Regions from separate parts of the Homo sapiens genome. Here regions 1 and 2 are each linked to region 3. Evidence: fine-mapped expression QTL. A gene starts in region 3. Each other region holds a variant in brackets. All regions are shown on one strand. Distances are between the middles of the regions. Region 1 overlaps AMIGO1 (adhesion molecule with Ig like domain 1). Region 2 overlaps SORT1 (sortilin 1). Region 3 holds the start of ATXN7L2 (ataxin 7 like 2).

Evidence for each region. PIP is the estimated chance that this variant, and not a neighbour inherited with it, causes the effect. A credible set is the group of variants that fine-mapping cannot tell apart.
Region 1: its variant is the best candidate, but not a certain one, in a credible set for the expression of ATXN7L2 in whole blood (INTERVAL, PIP 0.87).
Region 2: its variant is the best candidate, but not a certain one, in a credible set for the expression of ATXN7L2 in aorta (GTEx, PIP 0.79).

What each region holds. Positions count from the first base shown.
Region 1 is chr1:109,503,342-109,506,053 of GRCh38, reverse strand. It overlaps AMIGO1 (adhesion molecule with Ig like domain 1), which reads left to right. Exons shown (of 2, transcript NM_020703.4): 2 at 1-1,876. Among named protein-coding and RNA genes, the nearest start is that of AMIGO1, 5.0 kb to the left of the region's middle. The variant C/T (reference allele first, on the strand shown) is at 1,343.
Region 2 is chr1:109,367,925-109,370,684 of GRCh38, reverse strand. It overlaps SORT1 (sortilin 1), which reads left to right. Exons shown (of 20, transcript NM_002959.7): 2 at 1,096-1,155. Among named protein-coding and RNA genes, the nearest start is that of SORT1, 29 kb to the left of the region's middle. The variant T/C (reference allele first, on the strand shown) is at 1,256.
Region 3 is chr1:109,482,686-109,485,445 of GRCh38, reverse strand. ATXN7L2 (ataxin 7 like 2) reads right to left here and starts at 1,541. Exons shown (of 11, transcript NM_001350175.2): 1 at 1,366-1,541. The coding sequence starts at 1,492. RefSeq lists enhancers at 832-1,451, 1,452-2,069 and a silencer at 1,469-1,638.

The sequences.
Region 1 (2,712 bases), 21 kb before region 3:
CCCATTCCTCCATCGAGAGGTCTTTGCAGTTGTGGTTGTGAGGCCAGAGGAACTTAAGAAGAATGAGCTCAACATTCCATTCCATCCAAGGTTGCAGAATACTTTGAGTATGGAGATGACCGATCCCTTTAACCTTTCCCTTTGACTACACTGCATGCCCTGTGAGTGGCTGCTCTGAGCTTTGGCGGGGGATGAGCAGGGTGAAGGTGAAAATGTTCTCTGATGTTGGTTTTTCTTAGGGTCTCTTCTCTCCCACGTTTCTAGTCCATTGGAAGTTCTCCAGATCCTCTAGATTTCTGACCTCTTTTTACATTCTAAGAGGTGTCATTTACCTGTGGGTGAGGGGCTTGGAGGGCCTGACTATTAAGCTTCCTATTATGATTGGGGAAGGGGACTCAACATCTTCCCCTTGTCTGGTCCTGGGAACTCAAGACTGCTGTCCATCCTTTATTAGTAACCTAGTTTTGTTGAGAGAGAGGTGCAGCATTTCCCTCAAGTACCTGCATGCTCATAGGTATGCATGCTTATAGGTATGCATGCACACCAGCACCTTGACTTCCACCAGGACAGTGAATCTGTAGTCCCCATTAATGATACTCTCAGAATGGTCTCCACCAATGTGCACAACTTCATGCACACAATTGTATTCCTCTTTAGGAGAGACAGTGACCATGCCAGGCTCTTCAAATACACACTCCTGTATTTTCATTTCTGAACTCCCTGAAGCTTCACCCACATCTCCATGGCACTGAATCACTTTTCTGCCCAGGCTGGAGTTAGAAGAACCATGGGTTGAAGGCCTTGGGAGAAGAGGTGGTAAGGAGCTACCTGGTTCTTTGGACTCCTCAGAAACCTCCCGTGAAGACTATATATATGAGCAATATATGAGCAATTAAGATAGAACTAGGTCATTGAAGGACTCAGAAGGAAACTGGCAAGGGGCTAAGTAGCTGTGAGCTGCTCTTCCTGTTAACTGTCCTCAGGAGAGAAAAGTTGTCTTGATTTATTCCAGAGACTCCTGAGAATTTTGTTACTGGAGCTATAGGAACTAGGACTCCCTCCTCAGACTCATCAGGAAATCTGGGAAAATCTCATCTCCATGCTGCAGTCTCCCCGCTTGGCACCATCTAGGGCTCTGAAGATCTTTAAAGTGAGCGTTAAATGAAGCAGGCCTTCTGGGGCATCGTGATGGAGCTCCTGAGGACTGGGAGGGCCGTTTTCTTCATAATTCCTACCCAGTTTAGGGAATGAGAAAAGGCCCTGTGGCTCTTAAGTCTCCTGACTATATCCACTAGTTTGGCCTTGAGTTTGAGACACCTGGTAGATGTACCTGGCTGCCCTA[C/T]CAAGAGATTTGATTTGTTTCTTCCCGTGGTTTCAGGTGATAGAACCCAAAGGTAGCTTTTTAATTGGAGAATTGAATAATCAGCATATGTAAGCGCACTAGAACCCTGTGTTGAAAACTGCCAGGTGTGGGTATAAGAAAAGGCCGAGAGATCACCACCTCCTCTTACCCTACCCCACACCCATAAACCAGACATGTCTCCCAGGAAGCAGGTGTCCCTGGAGACAGAGGATGACAGGGCTCTACAATCTGTGTAATTATTATTATTATTATTATTTTGTATTTATGGGGCCCAAGAAAGGGGCCAGGAGAGGGTACACCCCAGCTGGGGAGAGCAAAGCAGATGGATCCAGTTTTCTGTGTGTTCTTACCTCTGTACTTCCTCGTAGCTCTGCTGACAAAGCAAGCAGGCCTCCCGTGTCCAAGACCCCATTCCTCCCACTTGTGTACACCTAGGCTGGCAAATCTTGGAGCCTCTGGGCTCTGAAAACTAGACAATGATCATTAAACCTGGCTTGAGTCTCTGTTCTGGCACAATCTGACTGGTTTATTTTTTCAGCCTGTGGGTGGGGTTCACTGTACCTCAGAAGGGTGTGTCCTATCTAGGAAGAAAATCTTTAAGTGCTATTGTACGGACATGGGTGAAATACACATCTAGGCATTAAGATGGACCGGGGTCAGCAAACATTTTCCCTAACGAGCCAGATAGTAAATATTTTAGGCTCTGCAGACCACACAGTCTCTGTTACAACTCAGCTGTGCTGCTATAGCTTGAGTGTAGCCACAGACAGGACAAAAATGAATGACTGTGGCTGTGGTCCAAAAAAGATTTGACTTATGGACATTGAAATTTGAATTTCATATTTTAACATGCCTTTTGAGTTTTTCCAAGCATTAAAAAATATATAAACTAGGCCGGGCGCGGTGGCTCACGCCTGTAATCCCAGCACTTTGGGAGGCCGAGACAGGTGGATCACAAGGTCAGGAGATCGAGACCATCTTGGCTAACACGGTGAAACCCCGTCTCCACTAAAAATACAAAAAATTAGCCGGGTGTGGTGGTGGGCGCCTGTAGTCCCAGCTACGCAGGAGGCTGAGGCAGGAGAATGGGGTGAACCCGGGAGGTGGAGCTTGCAGTTAGCCAAGATAGCGCCACTGCACTCCAGCCTGGGCAACAGAGCAAGACTCCATCTCAAAAAAAAAAAATGTTATATATATATATATATATATATATAAACTACTATTAGCTCACAGGCCACATAAAACCAGGCAGTGGGCTGGTTTGACCAACAGACCATACTTTGCTGACCCCTAAGATTCTCAAATGTCACTGAAGCTTTAGAGTTTAGAAATCCCATGACTTGGCGCTC
Region 2 (2,760 bases), 110 kb after region 3:
AGATTATAAGTCTTAAGAAAAAAGCATAATCATCCACATTTATTAGAAATATATACTGAACTATTAAACTGTCTAAGAAATGGGGCTTGGGTGGTGAGCATGTGGCCTGGAAAAGAGAAGGATCTTCACTCTTTGCTATATAGACTCTATATAGTATGTAATTTCTATATGGTTTGAAATTTTTGCCAAGTGCAGTTATTACCTCTTTGGAATTTTTATTTTTTTTATCAGTTACAAAAATTATAGAGAACAGACGATTGTATTAATACATATAATATTAACCTTGAATATCTCTATGTGGTAGGATTATGAGTGACTTATCTTTATTATGCGTTCTTATAATTGTCTACATCTTCTTTAATGAATATATATTATTGTATAAGTAGAGAAAGGAAGTATTTGAAAAACAAAACCCAAAACCACCTACAATGATTATTATAACTATATTTTAACATGCTTACTATATTTTGGATATAATATACCAGCTTTCCCTTTTTTACCTCCTTACTCTCACTGCAACTCTAGTAAGGTTGTTTTATTATTATCATTATTACTATTGTTATTAAATAAAAAGGTGAAACAAAGGCATTTGCTTCTTGCTTCTGCCCGTTGTCATTTTTGAGTGAGCTAGACTAGAAGTAAAAGGAATCCAGTTACGAACTTTTCAGCTATACTGTAAAGGATGCCCAGAAAAATTTAAATTATGTTGATTTGGTTACAATTACGCCTGCCAGTGTGGGCTATGATCTTTTGTTTTAAAGCATCCTAAAAATACTTTGCTATACCTTTATATTTAGTTCTGTTGGAGAAAGCAATTAGATTGTCCCATCTCCCATCTCCCCATCTGGTGCAGTAAAGAAAACTCATCTGCTTGGCTTACTTTGTGTTAGAGAGAATTTAAATTTCCAAGTTATTTGTGATTCACATTAAGTAGTTAAATCCCATCCCTCCCAAATTTTGTACTGGGAATCCATACCCACTTTGTAATTATGAACTTAATTACTCTGAACAGTAATAAAGTTCAGATATTTAAAGAAGCCAAAGATTGAAGGAGAGTGGCTGTCATTTCTAAATTAATTTTTTTTCCCCTTATAGCATGTGTTTGATGATCTCAGAGGCTCAGTATCCTTGTCCTGGGTTGGAGATAGCACTGGGGTAAGTCATATTTTGAGTCTGTTATTTCAGCCCAGCAAGAAGATGATAACAGATTTGGGGAAGGGTTAAGCACCTAATATCATTTCTTCCTGAAACTGTC[T/C]TTAGCCTCAATCACAGAAAACACATGTTTGCAAGACAGACTTTCAGGAAGTTGTAGTTGTGTTGGTTTTGCTTTAGAATTGGGAACATCTTTTTTGCGGGGGGGTGGGGACGGAGTTTCGCTCTTGTTGCCCAAGTTGGAGTGCGATGGCATGATCTCAGCTCACTGCAACCTCCACCTCCCGGGTTCAAGCGATTCTCCTGCCTCAGCCTCCCAAGGAGCTGGGATTACAGGCACCCACCACCATGCACAGCTGATTTTTTGTATTTTTAGTGAAGATGAGGTTTCACCATGTTGGCCAGGCTGGTCTTGAACGCCTGACCTCAGGTGATCCACGCGCCTCAGCCTCCCAAAAGTGCTGGGATTACAGGCATGAGCCACTGCGCCTGGCCGGGAACATCTTCTGACCACCTTCTTCCACGGTGGGAAGATGGACACCTTTTCAGTCCTTGGTGGCTGCTTAGCATCAAGATGAGCAAGAAGAAAGATGAAAGTGCTCTGTACTGAGAAGGGAAGCGCACAATGCTTGGGGAAACCCCTATATAGAAACAGAAAATGTCCATTAAAAACATCCTGGCACTTTTCCTCCAAATTGTATTGTTCCTGTGTCCTTTCCTACAGGTGTGTTGAGGGACTGTGGTGCCCATGGGCTCATGGTTGTTCATCTGTTGGTCCCTGCCCCTGCCACAAAGGAGGTACTGCCAGGATTGGGGGAATGGAAGGAGGATCAGTCAGCTCCTTATCCCTCCTGATATACAGCTGGGCTCCCACTAGGAGGACACGCTGAGGATACATTGGCCCCTGGTCTTAAATCAGGACTTGTTGCCTGGCTGTCTTATTATCCTGCTTGAACAAGAGCAGGGGCAACATCTCCTGCCCCCTGGTATTCCATAATGCATGTGTCATAGCATTGAGGCACATGATAGTTATATTAGAAGCCTAAAGAAATAAAATCTTGGTGCTGAAAAGCAAATTGTAAATTTCTTATTTTGATTAATTTTTAAACTTTCAGTAGAATTTCTTTAAGCATAGTTCAGTTTTTTCTAAAATTTGAGTTGTACCCTAATTTCCATGATTTACCCATTTATCTTAGATAGTTGGTATCTCCAAGAATTTTTTTTTTTTTTTTTTTTTTTGAGACAGAGTCTTGCTCTGTCACCCAGGCTGGAGAGCAGTGGTGCAATCTTGGCTCACAGCAACGTCCACCTCCCAGGTTCAAGCAATTCTCATGCCTCAGCCTCCCAAGAAGCTGGGACTACAGGCAAGCACCACCACGCCCGGCTAATTTTTGTATTTTAAGTAGAGATGGGGTTTCACCATGTTAGCCAGGCTAGTCTCGAACTTCTGACCTCAAGTGATCCGTCCGCCTCAGCCTCCCAAAGTGCTGTGATTACAGGCGTGAGCCACCGTGCCCAGCCATCTCCAAGATTTCTCATATGGCTTTCTGAGACTCCCTAGACTCTTATAGTAATCCATCCAGAATCATTTCCTCATGCATAGTTTTT
Region 3 (2,760 bases):
GAGAAACTGCTGTCTTTGGTCCTTGAGCATCTTCAAAGTCTCCTTGGTCAGCTATGCAAGTCCCTCCCCTTCTTAGAGGGCCTTTGGGCAGGGGTTGCCCTTGTACCTCAGTTTCTGGGTTAATGACAAAAACATCTTAGCTGTGCAAAGCAGCTTTTTCCCCATCCCCCTACCTCTCTCCTCCCCCCTCCCTCCTCTACGCCCCCTCCCTGTCCCTTGGGAAAAAAAAAATCAATTCTGAGTCACCAAACCCGTCTGACTCCATTTCCGGTTCTCAATGCACCCAGACCCTGACAATGGCCCCATCTTTGCCCACCCAGCATGGGGCAGCCCCAGGGTGGCCTGGGCTCCCACTTAGGTCTGCTCTCTGATGCCCATTAACAGATATGCTCCTTTCTAGGATGAGAAGATTGTTGACAATCTTATATAATATCCAGATTATGAGGGGTCGTGGGTTAGGCACGCAAGAGACAAGGGGCAGCTCCCACTCTAAGTCCGTTAAATGCAAGTGCGGGGAATGATGGATAGAACGAAACTGGGAGTCGGATGTCTCAGAGGAGAACAAGTGTCATTAGAGACCCCTCCGTGCAGTCTCCTCCTCCACCTCTTCTCACTTGCAAACTTCTTCAGGGGCGTGATGCCTGCTGTCACCCCGAAAGGCCACGAGGCCAGGTGCTCCCTGGGGCCCAGAAGACAAAGATCAGAAGAAGGGGCTGTAGGCCCGCTCACTAAGGCACTCAGGGGCCTAGAGAAGGTGAGAGTAAGAGCAGAGAGCCAAGAGGCAGGGCAAGAGGCCTGGGAAAGGACAGTGGGTTGGAGGCATGGATGGATGGACCGAAGGATGGAGGGAGGGAGGATAGATGGATGGACGGACGAACTAACGCGGAGAGGGCGGGGGTCTAAAAGCACTGCAGCTGCAGGCAAATGCCGAAAAGGAGCAGGAGGTGTGGGGCAAAAGGCGAAGGAACAAGGGGGGTGAGGAAGGGGGCACAGAAGTGGGGTGCGTGGGAAACACGTGGAGGACTGTTGCGGACAGGGAAAGCTGGAGGCAGGTGCAGGAGGGTCGCGAGCTGAGGGGCAGCAGGCAAGGAGAAAGATAAAGGCAAGCCTATATGGGGGCAGGTATTAGCGACTGGCAGAGGCAGAGGTTGGCAGGGTGGGCTGCGAGCGGTGAGCAGGCGCTAGGACCCGGAGGCGCGAAGGTGACGGAGCGGGCGGGCACTAGGACCCGGCGGGTCCTTTGTTTGGGGGGCCGGGGAGCCGGACGGCGGCTCCAGTCGGCGGCTCCCCTCAGCTGGCGGGGGCCCGGAAGGGGGGAGGGGAGATAGTGATGGGGTCCCCGGACTTTAGGGTGGCTTTACTCACCGTCAGCCGCGGGCAGGTCGGCCCGCTCCACCCACGAGCTCCAGCTCTGTCCCGCGAAGTCATCGAGACTCGGCACCCGCCGCTCCAGAGCGGCCATTGCTGCCGCCGCGCGTTCACGCACCGCCATCACCGCCGCGGACGCGCGCCCGCCCTGGCGCCGCCGCCGCGCGGCCCCCTCCCCCTCGCCCCGTCGCGGGCACGCCTCCCCTCCTCCCCACCTGCCTTTCCAGCGCAGTCTTTGCGCAAGCGCAACACAGGTTGCCTGTTCCCCGCGCCCCCCCCCCCCCCACCCACTCACAGCCTTCTGGGAAGTGTAGTCTTGGAGCGGATGCTATTGCCTACCGAGCTTGCAGCAAGAGTCCCTCCGAAATGCACAATTGCAGGGGGAAAAGAGAAGACCAAAGCTCCAGGACCTCCTCTTCTAACCCTTATGCACACATTATTTGTGCTACCAGTCCACTCTCCCAAGCTCACTGCATCTCTCCCCAGCCCCAAACCTCTCTGCCCAGACGCCCCTCTAAGCCGTGCGTCCGCCAGCTGGCTGGCGCCCCTTCCCGGGCTGGCGGCCACGAAGCGACTCCGCTCCCCTGTAGATCGAATAGGGTAGGTGCAGGGAGGTGGGCGCTGTGAATCAGAAGGGCAAGGGGAGGGAGTCTGTAGGAGGTGCTGAAGGACACAGGGGTGGTGTGGGGGAGGGCCTCGGCTCCCGTGTCGTGCCTCCTCTGTGGGAAACCCACGCTGCCCTGATGCAGAGCAGAGGGTTGGCGTGGCGTTGTCTGGATTTGAGAGGACCTGGCCAAGCTGACCAAGATCACCTGTCATGATGACAGGATGACAGAAGGCTGTCTCCGAGCCAGAGCCAGCCCCAGAACTGGGGTGGCCCCGAGGCAGCTGGTGTTTGCAGCATCTCTGCTGATCTGTCTCTCTTCTCTTGAGAACTGCGATCGATACCCTGTACAGCCTCTTCCCAAACCCTGGCTGGACCCTGACTCCATCCATCACTTTGCCTTCTTTTTCTAATGAATACTTTCTCTGCTGGAAGGGCTGCTTCTGAAGCCTCGGCATAGGGAGATTTCTCATCAGAGCTGTCATCTTCCTTGCTAAGGTCTGGAAAGTACCTTAATCATCCATTTCTTTCATCTTCTCAGCTGATAACATTTCTTCCCACCCTCACACAATCAGACAAAAGTCTGCCTACTCCATTTCCCGCCCCCCCCCCGCCGCCATCGCATTAAAAAAGTAATACTAATCCTTTTTCCTCCTCAACCTCTCACACCTCACCCCCGACGCTTGACCCTTTAGCTAAGGGGAAAACAAGTTGGGGAGCAAGACCTCAGATTTTCTTCTCCTTTTCATCCAGGGAAGGTGTAAGTACTTCAAGAATAATCTCTGAGG